Regions from separate parts of the Homo sapiens genome. Here region 2 is linked to region 1. The links come from fine-mapping of genetic effects on gene expression. A gene starts in region 1. The other region holds a variant in brackets. All regions are shown on one strand. Distances are from middle to middle. Region 1 holds the start of SERPINF2 (serpin family F member 2). Region 2 overlaps TLCD2 (TLC domain containing 2).

Region 1 (10,619 bases):
GGCAGGGGTCACGTCGATGGGGACCAGCTTGGGCTCTGCACCCCCAGCCCGTTGCCTGTCCCACCCAGAATCCATTCAAGGATGAGACAGCGGTGGAGGCCAAGACCCCAGGGAATGCTAGCTGGCATCCAATTGATCTAAGGTCTCTTTCCCGTAGCATTTTTGAAATCTGGGCTTGTGTTTTCCCCAACCCCTGCAATTCTCCTAGGAACCTCCTCCTGGATCTTTTTTTTTTTTTTTAGACGGAGTCTCGCTCTGTCGCCCAGGCTGGAGTGCAGTGGCACGACCTCCGCTCACTGCAAGCTCCACCGCCTCCCGGGCTCACGCCATTCTCCTGCCTCAGCCTCCCGAGTAGCTGGGACTACAGGTGCCCGCCACTACGCCCAGCTAATTTTTTTGTATTTTTAGCAGAGACGGGGGTTTCACCGTGTTAGCCAGGATGGTCTCCATCTCCTGACCTCATGATCTGCCCGCCTCGGCCTCCCAAAGTGTTGGGATTACAGGCGTGAGCCACCGCGCCCAGCCCCTCCTGGATCTTTTCAGACCATTTGTTCCCAGGGTATTCACTCTAGAACAACTCATCTGGCTCCTGGGCACCCATCCCCACCACACCCAGACAGCCTCCTGCCTCATGGCCCAGACTGAGGAAGAAAGGAGACCCTCAGAACAAAGCCTGCATGGCCGGGCGCGGTGGCTCACGCCTGTAATCCCAGCACTTTGGGAGGCCGAGGTGGGTGGATCACCTGAGGTCAGGAGTTCAAGGCCAGCCTGGCCAACATGGTGAAACCCTGTCTCTACTAAAATACAAAAATTAGCTGGGTGTGGTGGCAGATGCCTGTAATCCCAGCTACTGGGGAGGCTGAGCCAGGAGAATCGCTTCAATCCGGGAGGCGGAGGTTGCAGGGAGCCGAGATCGCGCCACTGCGCTCCACCCTGGGTGACAGAGCGAGACTTGTCTCAAAAAACAAAAAGGCCTGCACGTCCCAGCTCAGCCTACAGGGTGGGGGATCTGAGAGGAGGAGGAGCGCACCCTGGAAGTGGATGGCGTTGAGGAGAAGCAACACGGTGTCTTCCGGCAGCCCAGAGAGGAATTCCTGAATCTTCCCCTCCGTGGCCTCCTTCACCCATTGGTTGATGTTTGCCAGGTCATCTTCCTGCTTTCCCGTCAGGCTCACGGGCTTTGCCCCAAATAGCTGTTCGGATTGTTCCAGGAAATCTTCTTTGATGGGAAATCCTGCACGGAGGCAGCACAAGCTGTTCCCAGGGCTCCAGGCTCCACAGCCAGACACGCCCCTACTCGCTACCAGAGGCCCAGCCCCTTGCTCTCACCCTCCTCCACCCAGGGCAGGACTGAGGGAGCTCCCTGCCATCAGCGCCTACCTTTCTGCAGGTACATCCTGGCAGCCAGTCGGAACGCGCCGGGGCCCAGGTCCTGGCAGAGGCGGCTCAGCAGATGGGGGAGGCAGGGCCCTGAGCCTGCGTGCAGCACCTGTTGCAGCCTCTGCAACGTGTGGTTCTGAGCACCTGGAGGGCACCGCACAGGCTGAGGCCCGGCTGCGGGTCCTTTCTCACCCCCACTGCCCACTCCAGTCCCTCCTGGATACCCGTGACGAGGACGTCCACGGGACCACACGCCATCCTTCCACAGCCACGGATCTGTTCTGCGTGGCTCTCACCCCTGTGGCTGACAGGCTGGGTGACCTCACCCCCCACAAGTTACCTTCCCTCTCTGGGCTTCCGTTTCCCACAGTGAGACCCTCCAGCACAGTGGGAAAGAGTGTAGCTAGCAAACTCTTGCATAAGAATCACCAGGAGGGGCCGGGCGCGGTGGCTCACGCCTGTAATCCCAGCACTTTGGGAGGCTGAGGCAGGTTGATCACCTTAGGTCGAGAGTTCGAGACCACCCTGGCCAACATGGTGAAACCCCGTCTCTACTAAAAATACAAAAATCAGCTGTGCATGGTGGCTGGTGCCTGTGATCCCAGCTATTTGGGAGGCTGAGGCAGGAGAATTGCTTGAACCTGGGAGACAGAGGTTGCAGTGAGCTGAGATCACACCACTGCACTCTAGCCTGGGTGACAGAGCAAGACTCTGTCTCAAAAAAAAAAAAAAAATCACCAGGAGGACTTGTAAATAAGCAGATTCCCCGGCCCAGTCCCTGAGATCTGATTCACATAGACAGATGGGTGGGGGCCCAGGAATCTGCATTTGTTGTTGTTGTTGTTTGAGACGGAATCTTGCTCTGTCACCCAGGCTGGAGTGCAGTGGCGCCATCTCGGCTCACTGTAACCTCCAACTCCCAGGTTCAAACAGTTCTCTGCCTCAGCCTCCTGAGTAGCTGGAATTACAGGTGCGCACCACCACGCACAGCTAAATTTTTTGTATTTTTAGTAGAGAGAGTTTCACCATGTTGGCCAGGCTGGTCTTGAACTCCTGACCTCGTGATCCACCCGCCTCAGCCTCCCAAAGTGTTGGGATTACAGGCGTGAGCCACCGCCCCGGCCTAGGAATCTGCATTTTTACCAAACAGCCACGTGACCCTGGTGGAGGAACCGCCCGCGGAGAACCATTGGAGTACTGAGTTCCTACTGGCCTCCCAGCTCTCTTGGTCTGGACAAGTGGTGCCAGGGTACCTAGTGCCAGGTGAGACAGCGCCAGGGCCACACTCAGGGGTGACAGGATGAGGTTGGGGCAGGTGGACGTTTGAGCCACCAGGGAGAACAGGTCGGCAGTGAAGGCCATCATGGCCCGGGCCAGCCTGTGGGTCTGCTCTGGGGTGGGGTCTCTGCTGCAGACTCCTGGGGGACTCTTCAGGGCAGTCTGGCCACCAGGCTCCTGCAGGGACAGATCAGGGGTCAGGGAGGTCAAGGGGTCAGCTCCAGGTTCTGTGTTGAAGGCCTTGTCACAGCCCCTGTGCCTGAGGACAGCAGGGCCTTGTCCCAGCCCCAGGGAAGAGGGAGCGTCAGACGGAGGGCACTGGCATTCTGGGGCCTGGCGCCCACCTTCGGTCCTCCCCACCCTCTCTCCCTTCTGGCCTCTGGACTCCAGAGCCTCAGCCTCAGCACGCGCCCCCACCCCCCGACCCCTGCCGATGGGCCCTCCTCCCTCTAGCCCCGCCCACTCTTCCCCAGCCCCACCTGGTTGTACCTGGTTGCCCAACTTGAGGAGGGTAAGTGGGGACACCTGCTCCTGGTTCGGCCCGCTAGTTAGCTGCGGAAAGGAGCAAGCAGATGGAGACCGACCCTTCCCACAGGCCCCCCACCCTGCCCAAGCCACCAGTGAGACCCCCGGGACCTTCCCCCCATCACAGGCTCCTCACTCCCCAGTACCTGCCGGCCCAAGGGCTCCATGGCGCTCACAGGGGAGAACTGTGGAGAAAGGGATGAGGATAGGAGGTCCCCTCGGAGCCAAGCCCTCCCTCCATGCCAACGCCCCTCTTCTTCCCCCTCCACCCCACCCCACCTTGACTTCAGCCCAGCCTCACCACGGAGCAGGGGCCTTGCAGGCAGGACCAGCTGAGCACCAGGAGCCCCCAGAGCAGCGCCATGTTCCTGTGGCAGGGACAGAAAGCTCTGTTCCCATCTCACATCCCCACGCCCGCCAGGGAATCCTACCCACGCGATCACAGATAACGCCAAGTCCTGGGTCATGATTGCCAAGGGGAAGAAGCAGGCTCCAGAATCAGAACAGACCCCAAACACACGAGCAGCGGCTCCCACTCCTGCAGCTGGGACATCCGCCCTGGCTTCTCCCCCTTTTTAGTTTCTGGTGTTTCATATTTCATGCATTTCATGCACTGAGGGTGTTTTGGTGAATAGGAGGGAGATACCAAATCAAAAACGTTCTCATTCTACAAGGCCCTGCGCTGTGAATCAGATCTGTGTCTGAATCCAGGCTACCTCTTGCCAAAGGACCTCGGCATTTCCCGTAACTCCACCAGGCTTGGCCTTACCTTGTAAAACGGTGGCACAAGTCCCTCACTCTTCTCACATGCATGGTGAGGACCAAAATAAGACCGTCTTTTTGGGATTTTTTGTTGTTTATTTTTTGAGACGGAGTTTCGCTCTCGTTGACCAGGCTGGAGTGCAGTGGCAGGATCTCGGCTCACCGCAACCTCCACCTCCCAGGTTCAAGCGATTCTCCTGCTTCAGCCTCCCGAATAGCTGGGATTACAGGCATGCACCACCACGCCTGGCTAATTCTGTATTTCTTAGTAGAAACGGGGTTTCTCTGTGTTAGTCAGGCTGGTCTTAAACTCCCGACCTCAGGTGATCCTCCTGCCTCGGCCTCCCAAAGTACTGGGATTACAGGCATGAGCCACTGCACCCGGCAAAAGACCATCTTTGTGGCCAGGCACGGTGGCTCAAGCCTGTAATCCCAGCACTTTGGGAGGCCAGGGGCAGGTGGATCACCTGAGGTCGGGAGTTCAAGACCAGCCTGGCCAACATGGTAAAACCCCATCTCTACTGAAAATACAAAATTAGCCAGGCGTGGTGGTGGGCCCCTGTAATCCCAGCTACTCGGGAGGCTGAGGCAGAGAACTGCTTGAACCCGGGAGGCGGAGGTTGCAGTGAGCCGAGATCACGCCACTGCACTCCAGCCTGGGCGACAGAGCAAGACTCTGTCTCAAAAAAATAAATAAGACCATCTTTGTAAACCCTGAGTACAATGCTTGGCACTCCCCCGATGGCTGGGGTCAGCTTGGCTCAAGGCCACCTCTTCTGGGAAGCCTGCCCTGAAGCCTCCACCGCAGAGCTCCAACACAGAGCTCCTACCCAGCCTGCTGCATCCATTTAGCCTGTCTTTTTTTTTTTTTTTTTTTTTTTTGAGATGGAGTTTCATTCTTATCATGCAGGCTGGAGTGCAATGGCACGATCTCGGCTCACTGCAACCTCCACCTCCTGGGTTAAAGCGATTCTCCTGCCTCAGCCTCCCGAGTAGCTGGGATTACAGGCATGTGCCACCATGCCTGGCTAATTTTGTATTTTTAGTAGAGACAGGGTTTCTCCATGTTGGTCAGGCTGGTCTCGAACTCCTGACCTCAGGTGATCCACCTGCCTCAGCCTCCCAAAGTGCTGGGATGACAGGCATGAGCCACCACGCCTGGCCCCAACCCGTCTTTCTCAGGCTGGTCAGGTCTTGCCCACAAGGCTGGACATACCTGTGAGGCCCTGAGGTCTCACCATGGGTGGCAAGGCAGCCAGAGAGCTGCCTTTTGACCCAGCAGCAGAGCCCAGTGAATGACTCTGGCCAGAGCCACCTCTGCACTTAGGAGCATCACAGGCCTCTGCTCCAGGCTGGCTCTGGGAAGGGCAGGTGTTGGTCTCAGGAGGATAAGTCAGAGCAGGTCTCAGCTACCTCCAGCCCACCCCCATCTTGGGGCCAACCCTTCTGGAGGATCCTTTGGTCCCCCCGGCCCCACCCCCATCCCACACAAGAGCCCTTGGCCAGGGCCCCGACTCCGACCTGGGCATTAGAATCTTCTTGCCAAGAACAGGCTCCAGTTTTTCAAGTCCCAGAAGAGGCTGGGGAGTGACAGGCCTCCTGAATAAATCCCAGACCCCTCAGCCAGGGAGGCAGCTCCCTCCTCCTCTCCTACCCAAGGAGCAGGCCGAGCAGCCCCTCCCCTCATACCTCTGCGGGCTCCTTGCTGCCACACACAACGTTCCTCTGGCCCCACTTGGGTGCTCCTCACTCTCTGCCCAGGCTCCAGCTGGCCCAGCCCACCCCTCCCCTCCCACCAGGACCTTTACTCTCAGCCAACCCCTGTTCAGATTGCTTTCTCTTCTGGTAAATATTGACTTGCACATCCAGTTAAACATTGATCTTGAAGCCAGAAGCCCCTTTCCCACCAGGGCATCTAACCCTGAGGCAGCCACGCAGAACCCCCTATATTTGGGTCCCCCCCCCCGAGCCTGGAAAGAGAAAGTTCAGGAGGAGAGAGTTGAAGAGACTGGATCTGGCTAGCCAAGAGGGCGGATCCAGAAAGCACAGGAACCTAGCACTGTGTTAAGCCTTCCAGAGACCCCACGAGGTGTGGATTATCCCTGGTTCAGCCAGGCTCAGAGAGGCCATGTGACCTGCCCAAGGACACAGAGCTGGGCTGAGGCACATCCAGATTCTCACTCCCAATGTCCTTTCTTCTCCCAGAGAGCTGCCTCCCGCTCCTGAGGGGAGGAAAGGGGAAGCCACAAGAGCCTATGCAGAGAGCCCAGGATAGGAAGCCCACCCCCAACCTTCCAAGCCCAGGATCAGGTTGGCTGCCTTCAGACTGGGATGGAAGGCAGGGGGTGAGGGAGGAGAAATGAGAGGGACTCAACTTCTCCCACCGTCCTGCCACTCCAGAGCAATGTCTCTTTCCCCTACCCAAGAGCGAGGGTTCTGGAAACTGACCTGGGGCTGTATGAACCAGAAGCCTGGCAGCCCGTGCAAAGATCAGGCTGCTTCCCACCCTCACTGTCCGGCTCCTCACTCCCTGCATCAGGCTCCTTCCCACCCTCACTGTCCTGCTCCTCACTCCCTGTATCAGGCCCCTTCCCACCCTCACTGTCCTGCTCCTCACTCCCTGCATCAGGCCGCTTCCCGCCCTCACACCTGCTCCTCACTCCCTGCATCAGGCTCCTTCCCACCCTCACTGTCCGGCTCCTCACTCCCTGCATCAGGCTCCTTCCCACCCTCACTGTCCGGCTCCTCACTCCCTGCATCAGGCTCCTTCCCACCCTCACTGTCCTGCGCCTCACTCCCTGCATCGGGCCACTTCCCACCCTCACTGTCCTGCTCCTCACTCCCTGCATCAGGCCGCCTCCCACCCTCACTGTCCGGCTCCTCACTCCCTGCATCAGGCCGCCTCCCACCCTCACTGTCCTGCTCCTCACTCCCTGCATCAGGCTCCTTCCCACCCTCACTGTCCTGCGCCTCACTCCCTGCATCAGGCCACTTCCCACCCTCACTGTCCTGCTCCTCACTCCCTGCATCAGGCTCCTTCCCATCCTCACTGTCCAGCTCCTCACTCCCTGCATCAGGCTCCTTCCCACCCTCACTGTCCGGCTCCTCACTCCCTGCATCAGGCTCCTTCCCACCTTCACTGTCCTGCTCCTCACTCCCTGCATCAGGCTCCTTCCCACCCTCACTGTCCTGCGCCTCACTCCCTGCATCAGGCTCCTTCCCACCCTCACTGTCTTGCGCCTCACTCCCTGCATCAGGCCCCTTCCCACCTTCACTGTCCTGCGCCTCACTCCCTGCATCAGGCTCCTTCCCACCCTCACTGTCCGGCTCCTCACTCCCTGCATCAGGCCCCTTCCCACCCTCACTGTCCTGCGCCTCACTCCCTGCATCAGGCCCCTTCCCACCCTCACTGTCCTGCGCCTCACTCCCTGCATCAGGCTCCTTCCCACCCTCAGTGTCCGGCTCCTCACTCCCTGCATCAGGCCCCTTCCCACCCTCACTGTCCTGCGCCTCACTCCCTGCATCAGGCCCCTTCCCACCCTCACTGTCCTGCGCCTCACTCCCTGCATCAGGCTCCTTCCCACCCTCACTGTCCGGCTCCTCACTCCCTGCATCAGGCCCCTTCCCACCCTCACTGTCCTGCGCCTCACTCCCTGCATCAGGCCCCTTCCCACCCTCACTGTCCTGCGCCTCACTCCCTGCATCAGGCCACTTCCCACCCTCACTGTCCTGCGCCTCACTCCCTGCATCAGGCCACTTCCCACCCTCACTGTCCTGCGCCTCACTCCCTGCATCAGGCTCCTTCCCACCCTCACTGTCCTGCGCCTCACTCCCTGCATCAGGCTCCTTCCCACCCTCACTGTCCTGCGCCTCACTCCCTGCATCAGGCCGCCTCCCACCCTGACTGTCCTGCTCCTCACTCCCTGCATCAGGCTCCTTCCCACCCTCACTGTCCTGCGCCTCACTCCCTGCATCAGGCCGCCTCCCACCCTCACTGTCCTGCGCCTCACTCCCTGCATCAGGCTCCTTCCCACCCTCACTGTCCGGCTCCTCACTCCCTGCATCAGGCTCCTTCCCACCCTCACTGTCCGGCTCCTCACTCCCTGCATCAGGCCGCCTCCCACCCTCACTGTCCTGCTCCTCACTCCCTGCATCAGGCTCCTTCCCACCCTCACTGTCCTGCGCCTCACTCCCTGCATCAGGCCCCTTCCCACCCTCACTGTCCTGCGCCTCACTCCCTGCATCAGGCTCCTTCCCACCCTCACTGTCCGGCTCCTCACTCCCTGCATCAGGCTCCTTCCCACCCTCACTGTCCTGCGCCTCACTCCCTGCATCAGGCCACTTCCCACCCTCACTGTCCTGTGCCTCACTCCCTGCATCAGGCTCCTTCCCACCCTCACTGTCCTGCGCCTCACTCCCTGCATCAGGCTCCTTCCCACCCTCACTGTCCTGCGCCTCACTCCCTGCATCAGGCCGCCTCCCACCCTCACTGTCCTGCTCCTCACTCCCTGCATCAGGCTCCTTCCCACCCTCACTGTCCTGCGCCTCACTCCCTGCATCAGGCCGCCTCCCACCCTCACTGTCCTGCGCCTCACTCCCTGCATCAGGCTCCTTCCCACCCTCACTGTCCGGCTCCTCACTCCCTGCATCAGGCCACCTCCCACCCTCACTGTCCTGCTCCTCACTCCCTGCATCAGGCTCCTTCCCACCCTCACTGTCCGGCTCCTCACTCCCTGCATCAGGCTCCTTCCCACCCTCACTGTCCTGCGCCTCACTCCCTGCATCAGGCCCCTTCCCACCCTCACTGTCCTGCGCCTCACTCCCTGCATCAGGCTCCTTCCCACCCTCACTGTCCTGCGCCTCACTCCCTGCATCAGGCCGCCTCCCACCCTCACTGTCCTGCGCCTCACTCCCTGCATCAGGCCACTTCCCACCCTCACTGTCCTGCTCCTCACTCCCTGCATCAGGCTCCTTCCCACCCTCACTGTCCTGCGCCTCACTCCCTGCATCAGGCTCCTTCCCACCCTCACTGTCCTGCGCCTCACTCCCTGCATCAGGCTCCTTCCCACCCTCACTGTCCTGCGCCTCACTCCCTGCATCAGGCCGCTTCCCGCCCTCACACCTGCTCCTCACTCCCTGCATCAGGCCACTTCCCACCCTCACTGTCCTGCTCCTCACTCCCTGCATCAGGCTCCTTCCCACCCTCACTGTCCGGCTCCTCACTCCCTGCATCAGGCTCCTTCCCACCCTCACTGTCCTGCTCCTCACTCCCTGCATCAGGCTCCTTCCCACCCTCACTGTCCTGCGCCTCACTCCCTGCATCAGGCTCCTTCCCACCCTCACTGTCCTGCGCCTCACTCCCTGCATCAGGCCGCCTCCCACCCTCACTGTCCGGCTCCTCACTCCCTGCATCAGGCTCCTTCCCACCCTCACTGTCCTGCGCCTCACTCCCTGCATCAGGCTCCTTCCCACCCTCACTGTCCTGCGCCTCACTCCCTGCATCAGGCTCCTTCCCACCCTCACTGTCCTGCGCCTCACTCCCTGCATCAGGCTCCTTCCCACCCTCACTGTCCTGCGCCTCACTCCCTGCATCAGGCTCCTTCCCACCCTCACTGTCCTGCGCCTCACTCCCTGCATCAGGCTCCTTCCCACCCTCACTGTCCTGCGCCTCACTCCCTGCATCAGGCTCCTTCCCACCCTCACTGTCCTGCGCCTCACTCCCTGCATCAGGCCGCCTCCTACCCTCACTGTCCTGCTCCTCACTCCCTCCATCAGGCCCCTTCCCACCCTCACTGTCCTGGAAACTGCTGGGTCTCGACTTTCCCCACCCTGACACCACCAGCAAGATAAGCCTCAGGCTGGGCGTGGTGGCTCATGCCTGTAATCCCAACACTTTGGGAGGCCGAGGCAGGAGGATCGCTTGAGCCCAGGAGTTGGAGACCAGCTTGGGCAACATAGTCAGACTCCATCTCTATTGAAAAAAAAAAAAAAGACAAGCCTCAGTTCACCCCATGGCTCTTCCAAAGGATTTATTGGTCCTATTTACATCTATTGCAAATTGTGAGAAGGCAGCAGGGGCCAACCCCTGGACCTCATCTCTGTCTAGAATGTGAGGTCGCAGGGATGCTTAAGTCTTCCTCTGGCAGAGACCCGAGGTGCAGAGATGATTCTTCTCACCCCTTCTCTCAGGGTCGTGGAGCCCCAGCAGGGGTTCAGGGCCCAGAGGCTGCCCCCTCAGCTGAAGGCACAAACACTGTGGTAGGGGTGGGCAGACAACGCATGGACTCACTCCTGGCAGGCGCCACTGGCCAAGTGCACCTTTTCCCCCTGCTCCTAGCCTCCTTCTTCCTTCCCGTCCCGGTCCCACACTGGCCAGGGCCTGGATGGGTGGCCACTTAAACCCCAGACCCAAGCCCTTAACTCCTGGACCACGGCCAGCCTTCCTTAGGCTGGAATCCAAGCACCATCAGTGCCCTGGACCAGGCCAGCTTCCCTGTCCTAGAGGGATGGGACAGAGAGTGCCCAGCGGGGGCTGAGGGGCTAGAGACCGGCTGGGCAGGGCCAGTCTCCCTTCCCCTTCCCGAGCTTCCCTGTCCTCATGTGGACCCAGAGGGCAGAGCTGGGGAGAAGTGAAGGTAGCAACGCTTCCTCCTGCTCTTAACTTCCTGCTTGCT
Region 2 (10,619 bases), 42 kb after region 1:
TCCACCCACCTCAGCCTCCCAAAGTGCTGGGATTACAGACGTGAGCCACCGTACCCGACCCCTTTTGACTTTTCAAAGACAATTCGGATTCTTAGAGGAATGAACACAGGGCTGGTTTGTCTTCTTAGGACGGCACTGAAGTCTAGAATTACAGAAGGAAAGGTGCCCAGTACAGAGTTTTCCCAGGCCCAGGCTTTCATGGAAGAACAAGGGCAGAGGTAGACTGTGTGAGAGAAGGCTGCAGGAGGATAAAGGAATAGCTGGCCCTCTGGCTGGGCGCAGCAGCTCACGCCTGTAATCCCAGCACTTTGGGAGGCCGAGGCGGGAGGATCACCTGAGGTCAGGAGTTCAAGACCAGCCTGGTCAACATGGTGAAACCCTGTCTCTACTAAAAATACAAAATTAGCCGGGCATGGTGGTGCATGCCTGTAATCCCAGCTACTCAGGAGGCTGAGGCAGGAGAATCGCTTGAACCCAGGAGGCAGAGGTTGCAGTGAGCCGAGGTCGTGCCACTGCACTCCAGCCTGGGCAAACAGAGTGAGACTCTTGTCTCTAAAGAAAAAAAAAAAAGGAAGAGCTGGGACTTTTCTGAGATACATTCATAAAGTCTTCTTCCTCCCTGCTGCTTCTGCTGCGTTTTTTTCTGTTGAACAAGACCCCTTCCTTCCCAGAACATCGAGGTGACGGGAAGTGCCCAGCAGATTAAGTCTGCTGTTCCACTAAACAATGGACTGAGAGAGGCAACCCTTAGCCATCCACAGAAAAGCTACATGAGCAAAAGCAAGAGACAGGAAGATTGTCTTCAAAAAAAAACAAAACAAAACAAAAACCTTGCTAAGAAGCGGAGGTACAGAAAGATACGAAGAATGACAGAGACAGACATACATAGATTGAGTGATAGATAGAAAGAGAGAAGGATTATTCACATAGAGGTGACAGAGGCAAAGAAGGATGGAGGGCAAAAGAGACAGGCCCTAGCAGAAATATGGAGAAAGGCTGTCATAGATCCTGAGAGACACCAAAGTCACAGAACTGATAAAAGGGTTATAAACAAAAAGGACCAGAAAAATAGAAATGAAGGCCGACAAGAAGAGACCCCAAGGCTGAAAGGCACAGAGAGTCTAGACAGTGAAATAGAGTGAGTGACAAGGAGAAACACCCAGGCTCAGGAGTGATGGAGGAAATACTGGCAGATAGAGAGATCAGAAGAGCAAGAGGAGAGGTGGGAACAGAGAAGAGCGGGGACGAGTCCGGGGAGCTGAGAAGCAGAAGGCGGAGGAGGCAGTCAGTGGGAAGATTCACTGACAGAAGAGACCAGGAGATATGGGGACTTGGAGGCAGGCAGAAAGACAAAGGACAAACAGCTGCAGCGCAAACCCTAAAGACAGGCTGACAGTAACCGGTCGGCAGAGACTGGTAGGAAGATAAGGACAAGTCAGAATCAGGGGTGTCAACTGAGATGCAAATATAGGCAAAGGAGCTGACAAAGAGAATCACAGAGAGAAAAAAAAGGAGGAGAGCACAGAACAATTTAAATATCCAGGCTGGGCATGGTGGGTCACGCCTGTAATCCCAGCATTTTGGGAGGCCGAGGCAGGCGGATCACGAGGTCAGGAGATGACCATCCTGGCTAACATGGTGAAACACCATCTCTACTAAAAATACAAAAAATTGGCCGGGCGTGGTGGCAGGCGCCCGTAATCCCGGCTACTGAGGAGGCTGAGGCAGGAGAATCGTTTGAACCTGGGAGGCCGAGGTTGTTATAATGAGCCGAGATAGTGCCACTGCAGTCCAGCAGGGGTGACAGAGTGAGACTCCGTCTCAAAAAAAAAAATTGAATATCCAAAGAACAAAGAAGAGGCAGGAACCCAGAAATGAAAAGAGGAGGAAAAATACAGGTGTGAAAAAAAAATGAGAGGGATTGTGAGAAGTCTCCATCATAGAGTCATAAAAACAGGCGCAAAGGATGAAAATACATCGAGACTGAGGAAAACACAGTTGGAAGGAGCTAAACACAAGCAGAAAATAAGAGCAGAGCATTTAAATGTAATTAGATAAAAACCCAAGAGGCAAAGGTATAGATAGTGAGCTAGAGAAACAATGCAGAATTTTGTCAGAGTCTGTACTTCTAGAAGTCATGTTTGCTGGCTGGGCATGGTGGCTCACGCCTGTAATCCCAGCACTTTGGGAGGCCGAGGTAGGAGGAGTGGTTGAGCTCAGGAGTTCAAGACCAGTCTGGGCAACATATTGAGACCTCCTCTCTACAAAAAAAAAAAATTTTCTTTTTTCTTTCTTTTCTTCTTTTTTTTTTTTTTTTTTTGAGACAGTTTCATTCTTGCTGCCCAGGCTGGAATGCAGTGGCACAATCTTGGCTCACTGCAACCTCCACCTCCTGGACTCAAGTGATTCTCCTGCCTCAGCCTCCCTAGTAGCTGGGATTACAGGTACCCACCACCACACTCGGCTAATTTTTGTGTTTTTAGTAGAGACAGGATTTCACCATATTGGCCAGGCTGGTCTCAAACTCCTGACCTCAGGTGATCCGCCCACCTTGGGCTCCCAAACTACTGGGATTATATGCGTGAGCCAACACACCCGGCCAAAAAAAAATTTTTAATTAAAAAAAAAAGTCATATCTGCAAAACTCAATTTGCCATCTTAACTGAATGCCTTGATTAACAAAAATGTTGTCTGCCTTGAGTTTTTAAAGAAAAAGAAATATGACAAACTCATGTGAGGAATCTATTCCTTAAATATCTGTTGAGGTTGATATGAATTGATTCTAAGTCATACACCTTTTCTTTGGCCACTGGTATACATTCATGATGGTTTGAGTGAGTGTCCCTTTTGGTAATACTTGATAGTGTCTATGAGGCCGGGCGTGGTGGCTCACGCCTGTAATCCCAGCACTTTGGGGGACCGAGGCAGGTGAAATCCCATCTCTACTAAAAATAAAAAAAATTAGCCGGGCGTGGTGGCGGGCGCCTGTAGTCCCAGCTACTCAGGAGGCTGAGGCAGGAGAATGGCATGAACCCGGGAGGCGGAGCTTGCAGTGAGCCAAGATCGTGCCACTGCACTCCAGCCTGGGTGACAGAGCAAGACTCCGTCTTAAAAAATAAATAAATAAATAAATAGACAGATAGATAGATAGATAGTGTCTATGAAGGCTGCCCAAGAACTTGACCATTAGGGAAACATGGCTGTTTCTGTGGATTAACTAGTCAAGCCCATACAGGAAGAGTGAGGTCAGCTCCCAGGTGGGGCAGGATGTAGTGGACGCTTGGAAGAATTTGGGACCACACACGAATTGCTACCATGGTGAGCCAGTGAAACTTGAGGAAGGCAGGACTGGATTGTGATTACAACTGAGTAAGTAGGCAGAGAATTGGAGTGTGGGCAACATAAAGATGATGTGAATCAAAGAAGAATGGTCAATTAAGACCCTAAAAAAAGGACGTTCAAAAATGCAGAGGTTAAAAAAAAAAAAAGCAGAGATTGCCAGATGCTCCATTTGGTAGGAGTCTGCTTAGCACAGTGGTGCTTCGCCAGACTTTACCGTGGCCCAGGGAAATGGTCCTCAAGACGGACTCCATGTCTACCAAGCTACTTGCTAATGATTTCTTTGTCCTCCAGGACAGGGAAGGGGCTTTTCTGGATGGGATACATTGATATTTTATGGCCTTGAAACACTATCCTGATTATAAATTAATAAATTGCTATGCAAATAATTGCATTAGTTGCATCAATCTCTTATGAGCGTGGTTACTTTGAGTTACTTTTTGGCTCCAATGGTGTCCTGATTTACAATTCGATGCTAGATTGTGGAGGCTTTGCCTTGGGAAAGTTTCCACCCTGACGTGTCCTGATACCCTCTATAATCAAAAAGCAACTCCTGGCTGGGTGCAGTGGCTCATGCCTGTAATCCCAGCACTTTGGGAGGCTGAGGCTGGTGGATCACTTGAGGTCAGGGGTTCGAGACCAGCCTGGCCAACATGGTGAACCCTCATCTCTACTAAAAGTATAAAAATTAGCTGGGCGTGGTGGCAGGCGCCTGTAACGCCAGCTACTCGGGAGGCTGAGGCAGGAGAATCATTTGAACTCAGGAGGTGGAGGTTACAGGGAGCTGAGATTGCACCACTGCACTCTAGCCTGGGAGACAGAGCAAGACTGTTTCGAAAAAATAAAAAAAGCAAATCCAGTGTCAGGCGAGTTGGTTGATTCCTGTAATTCCAGCACTTTGGGAGGCTGAGGCTTGGGCCCAGGCGTTCAACACTGGCCTGGGTAACATAGCAAAACCTCATCTTTTTTTTTTTTTTTTTTTTTCTGAGACAGAGTCTCACTCTGCCACCCAGGCTGGAGTGCAGTGGCTCAATCTCAGCTCGCTGCAGCCTCCACCTCCTGGGTTCATACGTTTCTCATGCCTCAGCCTCCCGAGTAGCTGGGACTACAGGCGTGCACCACCACACCTGGCTAATTTTTGTATTTTTAGTAGAGACGGGGTTTCACCATGTTGGCCAGGCTGGTCTCGAACTCCTGACCTCAAGTGATCCGCCCACCTTGGCCTCCCAAAATGCTGGGATTACAGGCGTGAGCCATCACACCCAGCCGGATTCAGAGTTTAGAATGATTTTCTTTTCTTTCTTTTTTTTTGTTTTTTTTGAGATGGAGTCTCGCTCTGTCACCCAGGCTAGAGTGCAGCGGCACGATCTCGGCTCACTGCAAGCTCCGCCTCCCGGGTTCATGCCATTCTCCTGCCTCAGCCTCCCCTCCGCCCGCCCCCCTCCCCCGCGAGTAGCTGGGACTACAGGTGCCCGCCACCACGCCCGGCTAATATTTTGTATTTTTACTAGAGACGGGGTTTCACCGTGTTAGCCAGCATGGTCTCGATCTCCTGACCTTGTGATCCGCCCACCTCGGCCTCCCAAAGTGCTGGGATTACAGGCGTGAGCCACCACGCCCTGCTAATTTTTATATTTTTAGTAGAGATGGGGTTTCACCAAGTTGGCCAGGCTGGTCTCGAACTCCTGACCTCAGGTGATCCACCTGCCTCACCTCCCAAAGTGCTGGGATTACAGGCGTGAGGCACTGCGCCGGGCCTGCAGAATGATTTTCAGTGCCAAGGGTTGAAACCAAAAGAATCTTGTAGCCAAATTAATCCTGAGTCAACAGAAAACTTCATAACTGAACTGTCAAAACTTTATCACATAAAATCTGGATTTTGTTGGGCTGAAAATTAGAAGTCCTCATTTTGCAAAAAACTATGTAAGGGAAGTTACTCTTTAGAGAGGAGCTCTTGTGTTGAAATGAATATTTATTTAGGAGCATCCTCGGCCGAACATTTGTCGTGCCCCTTCCCCATGTCAGGCACCTTTTATTTATTTATTTATTTATTTAATTTTATTTATTTATTTTTGAGACGGAGTTTTGCTCTTGCTGCCCAGGCTGGAGTGCAGTGGCGTGATCTCAGCTCACTGCAACCTCTGCCTTACGATTTCAAGAGATTCTCCTGCCTCAGCCTCCTGAGTAGCAGGGATTACAGGCGCCCGCCACCACGCCCAGCTAATTTTTTTGTATTTTTGGTAGAGACAGGGTTTCACCATGTTGGCCAGGCTGGTTTCAAACTCCTGACCTCGTGATCCGCCTGCCTTGGCCTCCCAAAGTGCTGAGATTACAGGCGTGAGCCACCGTGCCTGGCCATCAGGCACCTTTTACACATTATCCCATTTAATCTCACACAACAGAGCTTCACCTCATCTTTTGTTTTTATTTTTATTTTTTGAGACGGGGTCTCACCCTGTCACCCAGGCTGGAGTACAGTGGTGCAATCGTAGCTCACTGCAGCCTCCAACTCCTGGCTCCTGGGCTCAGGCGATCCTCCTGCCTTAGCCTCCTGAGTAGGTGGGATTACAGACATGCATCACTACACCCAGATACATTTTTTTTTTTTAAATAGAGACAGGGTTTCACCATGTTCCCCAGGCTGGTCTCAAATTGCTGGGCTCAAGCAATCCACCCATCTCAGCCTCCCAAAGTGGTAGGGTTACAGGCATGAGCCACTGCGCCCAGCCATTTTTTTTTAAATTGAGACAGGGTCTCACTCTGTCACCCAGGTTGGAGTGCAGTTGCACAAACATGGCTCACTGCAGCCTTGACCTCCTGGGCTCAAGCGATCCTCCCACCTCAGCCTCCTGAGTAGCTGGGACCACAGGTGTGTGCCACGATGCCTG[GC/C]TAATTTAAAAAATCTTTTTTTATTTTTCCAGAGATGGGGTCTTACCATGTTGCCCAGGCTGGTCTCCAACTCCCGGCCTCAAGCAATTCTCCTCCCTTGGCCTCTCAAAGCGCTGAGATTATAGGTGTGAGAGGGAGTCTCACCATGTTGCCCAGGCTGGTCTGGAATCCCTGGGCTCAAGTGATCCTCTTGCCTTGGCCTCCCAAAGTGCTGGGATACACGCATGAGTCACTGCACCTGTTCTCATTCCATCTTTCAGATGAAAAAACAAACAGGCTGGGGCATGGTGGCTCATGCCTGTAATCCCAGTACCTTGGGAGGCCGAGGCAGGCGGATCACTTGAGGCCAGGAGTTTGAGACCAGACTGGCCAACATGGTGAAATCCTGTCTTTACTAAAAATACAAAAATAACTAAGGTGAGGCCGGGCGCGGTAGCTCACGCCTGTAATCCCAGCACTTTGGGAGGCCGAGGCGGGCGGATCGCGAGGTCAGGAGATCAAGACCATCCTGGCTAACACAGCGAAACCCCATCTCTACTAAAAATACAAAAAAATTAGCCGGGCGTGTTGGTGGGCACCTGTGGTCCCAGCTGCAGCTGAGGCAGGGGAATGGCGTGAACCTGGGAGGCGGAACTTGCAGTGAGCTGAGATCGTGCCACTGCACTCCAGCCTGGACAACAGAGTGAGACTCCATCTCAAAAAAAAAAAAATTAGCTAGGTGTGGTGGCAGGTCCCTGTAGTCCCACCTACTTGGGAGGCTGAGGCAGGAGAATAGCTTGAACCCCAGAGGTGGAGGTTGCAGTGAGCCAAGATCGCGCCACTGCACTCCAGCCTGGGCAACAGAACAAGACTCCATCTCAAAAAAAAAAAAAGATTATCCAGTCTGTTCTTTTCATTTTGCAGAGAATTGAAGGAACTGAAGCCTAGAGAGGTTAAGTGACTTATCCAAGCATACTCAGCTAGTCTGTAGCACAGCCCGAATCAGAATCGAGGTCTTTGGTTTGGTTCAGGGCTCTTTCCTATACACTATTTTGCCTCTTTCTTTATAGAAAGGCCACAGAGTGGAGAAATTTCAAGGTAGAAAGGTAGGAGTCAGCTGACAACTAAACATCCATCAAGTCGGATAAATTGCCTCTGAAGTGATATATATAAGTCAGGGTGTTTCAGTTTGAAAGGCAGACTCTAGGCTGGGCACGGTGGCTCACGCCTGTAATCTCAGCACTTTGGGAGGCCGAGGCTGGCAGATCATGAGGTCAGGAGAGCGAGACCATCCTGGCTAACACAGTGAAACCCCGTCTCTAATAAAAATACAAAAAATTAGCCGGGCATGGTGGCGGGCGCCTGTAGTCCCAGCTACTCAGGAGGCTGAGGCAGGAGAATGGAGTGAACCCAGGAGGCGGAGCTTGCAGTGAGCCGAGATGGTGCCACTGCACTCCAGCCTGGGCGATAGAGCGAGACTCTGTCTCAAAAAAAAAAGGCAGACTCCTATGGTCAAGTATTGATTTCTGCACTTTTCAGGAATGCAGTAATTGTGGAGGGCAGAGGTTCATTTCAGCTTTCCTCTGTAGACATGAACATCACTTAGCTTGGTACTGTGGAACATATACTTTTTTTTTTTTTTGAGACGGAGTCTCACTCTGTTGCCCAGGCTGGAGTGCAGTGGCATAATCTCGGCTCTCTGCAACCTCCACCTCCCGGGTTCAAGTGATTCTCCTGCCTCAGCCTCCCGAGTAGCTGGGACTACAGGCACATGCCACCATGCCCAGCTAATTTTTTGTATTTTTAGTAGAGACGGGGTTTCTTTGTTTTTTGTTTTTGTTTTTGTTTTTGTTTTTTTGGAGATGGAGTCTGAAGCCCAGGCTGGAATGCAGTGGCGAGATCTTGGCCCACTGCAGGCTCTGCCTGCCAGGTTCCATTCTCCTGCCTCAACCTCCCGAGTATCTGGGACTCTAGGCGCCAGCCACCACACCCGGCTAATTTTTTGTATTTTTAGTAGAGACGGGGTTTCACTGTGTTAGCCAGGATGGTCTCGATCTCCTGACCTCGTGATCTGCCTGTCTCGGCCTCCAAAAGTGCTAGGATTACAGGCATGAGCCACCGCACCCAGCCGGAGATGGGGTTTCAGCATGTTAGCCAGGATAGTCTCCATCCTCTGACCTCATGATTCGCCCGACTTAGCCTCCCAAAGTGCTGGGATTACAGGCTCGAGCCACTGAGCCCGGCCGATAGTAAATAATTTCTTTGGCTGAGGCTTTGCCCCTCACTCTGGCCTGCCAGTCTGTGCCCTTAAGAGCACTCCCTCATCTCCTAAACCTTCACCGGTTGGCATTGCTAATCCTGGGGCTTGAGAGGCTGGCATGGCAACTCTCTCTGCCTCAGATCCCAGGTCAGGGCACTGCTAGAAGAGGATAGAGAAGCCTGCAGAACTGGAGGGCCACAAATTCCTGCTGCACTGACGCAGGCCAGCCCTGCTACCTAGCTATTCACTTGCTCTCCTTACGGCTTGTCCAAACATCGTTTTCTTCAAACTCCTCCCCTTCCTTCCCCAACCCCGACTGTGTGGAATCCAAATATTTCCACCTCAACAGCAAACAGGAGTGGGGTGCTGGGGAGATGGAGGAGATGGGGGAGGGAAACAGTCTAGGGCCACTGCAGCAGCATTTCCTTGAAATATGTTGAATCTAAAAATTCATATAAGTCCGGCTGCGGTGGCTCACGCCTATAATCCCAGCAGTTTGGGAGGCCAAGGCGGGAAGATGACTTGAGTCCAGAAATTTGAGACCAGCCTGGGCAATATAGTGAGAGCCCCATCTCTACAAATAATAAAAATATTAGCCAGGTGGTCAGGTGCGGTGGCTCATGCCTATAATCCCAGCACTTTTGGGAGGCCGAGATGGGTGGACTGCCTGAGCTCAGGAGTTTGAGACCAGCCTGGGCAACATGGTAAAACCTCGTCTCTACTAAAATACAAAAAATAAAATAAAATAAAATAAAATAAAATAAAATAAAATAAAATAAAATAAAATAAAATTAGCTGGGCGTGATGGCAGGCTCCTGTAGTCCCAGCTACTCGGGAGGCTGAGGCAGGAGAATTGCTTGAACCCAGGAGGCGGAGATTGCAGTGAGCCGAGATCGTGCCACTGCACTCCAGTCTGGCAGACAGAATGAGACTCCATCTCAAAAAAAAAAAAAAAAAAAGCCAGGCACAGTGGTACACATCTACAGTCCTAGCTACTCAGGAGGCTCAGGTGGGAGGTCACTCAGCCTCCTGGAGTTGGAGGCTACAGTAAGTCATGATTGTGTCCTGCACTCCAGCCTGGGCAACAGTGGAGTCTGGAGTCTGTCTGTAAAAAAAATTAAAAAGATAAAATAAAATACCATTTCAAATACAATTACAATACTTGTTTTTAAAAAAAATTTTACAAAATGACAAGTGAAACTGTCAATTTTTTTTTCTTTTTTTTTTTTTTTGAGACGGAGTCTCGCTCTGTCGCCCAGGCTGGAGGGCAGTGGTGCGATCTCGGCTCACTGCAAGCTCCGTCTCCCGGATTCACACCATTCTCCTGTCTCAGCCTCCCGAGTAGCTGGGACTACAGGCGCCTGCCACCACGCCCAGCTAATTTTTTGTACATTTAGTAGAGACGGGGTTTCACCATGTTAGCCAGGATGGTCTCGATCTCCTGACCTCGTGATCTACCCGCTTCGGCCTCCCAAAGTGCTGGGATTACAGGCGTGAGCCACCGTGCCTGGCCCCACGCCTGGCTAACTTTTTTTGTATTTTTAGTGGAGACGGGGTTTCACCGTGTTAACCAGAATGGTCTCGATCTCCTGACCTCATGATCTGCGCGCCTCGGCCTCCAAAAGTGCTGGGATTACAGGCGTGAACCACCGCGCCCGGCCCAATTTTATGATTTAAGGAAGATGTGCCAATTTACTCTGTGGCTCCAAGTATCACTGGGACAGTTCATTTTTCTTTATTCTCTGTCTTTTTTTTGTTTGTTTTTTTGAGATGGAGTTTTGCTCTTGTTGCCCAGGCTGGAGCACAATGGTGCGATCTTGGCTCACTACAACCTCTGCCTCCTGTGTTCAAGCGATTCTCCTGCCTCAGCCTCCCGAGTAGCTGGGATTACAGGCACCTGCCACCATGCCCGGCTGTTTTTTATATTTTTAGTACAGACTAGGTTTCACCATATTGGCCAGGCAGGTCTTGAACTGGTCTCAAGTGATCTGCCCGCCTTGGCCTCCTAAATTGCTGGGATTACAGGCGTGAGCTACCGCACCCAGACTTTATTCTCTTTTTTTTTTTTTTTTTTGAGACGGAGTTTCGCTCTTGTTGCCCAGGCTGGAGCGCAATGGCGCTATTTTGGCTCACGGCAACCTCCGCCTCCCAG

Evidence for each region.
Region 2: its variant is fine-mapped to the expression of SERPINF2 in whole blood (TOPMed, PIP 0.97).

Annotation. Positions count from the first base shown.
Region 1 is chr17:1,737,924-1,748,542 of GRCh38, reverse strand. SERPINF2 (serpin family F member 2) reads right to left here and starts at 5,672. Exons shown (of 10, transcript NM_000934.4): 1 at 5,635-5,672; 2 at 3,485-3,551; 3 at 3,330-3,368; 4 at 3,148-3,210; 5 at 2,634-2,835; 6 at 1,381-1,524; 7 at 1,031-1,234. The coding sequence starts at 3,547. It overlaps WDR81 (WD repeat domain 81), which reads right to left. Exons shown (of 10, transcript NM_001163809.2): 10 at 9,958-10,619.
Region 2 is chr17:1,695,925-1,706,543 of GRCh38, reverse strand. It overlaps TLCD2 (TLC domain containing 2), which reads left to right. Exons shown (of 4, transcript NM_001164407.2): 4 at 1-3,728. Among named protein-coding and RNA genes, the nearest start is that of TLCD2, 9.1 kb to the left of the region's middle. The variant GC/C (reference allele first, on the strand shown) is at 6,228.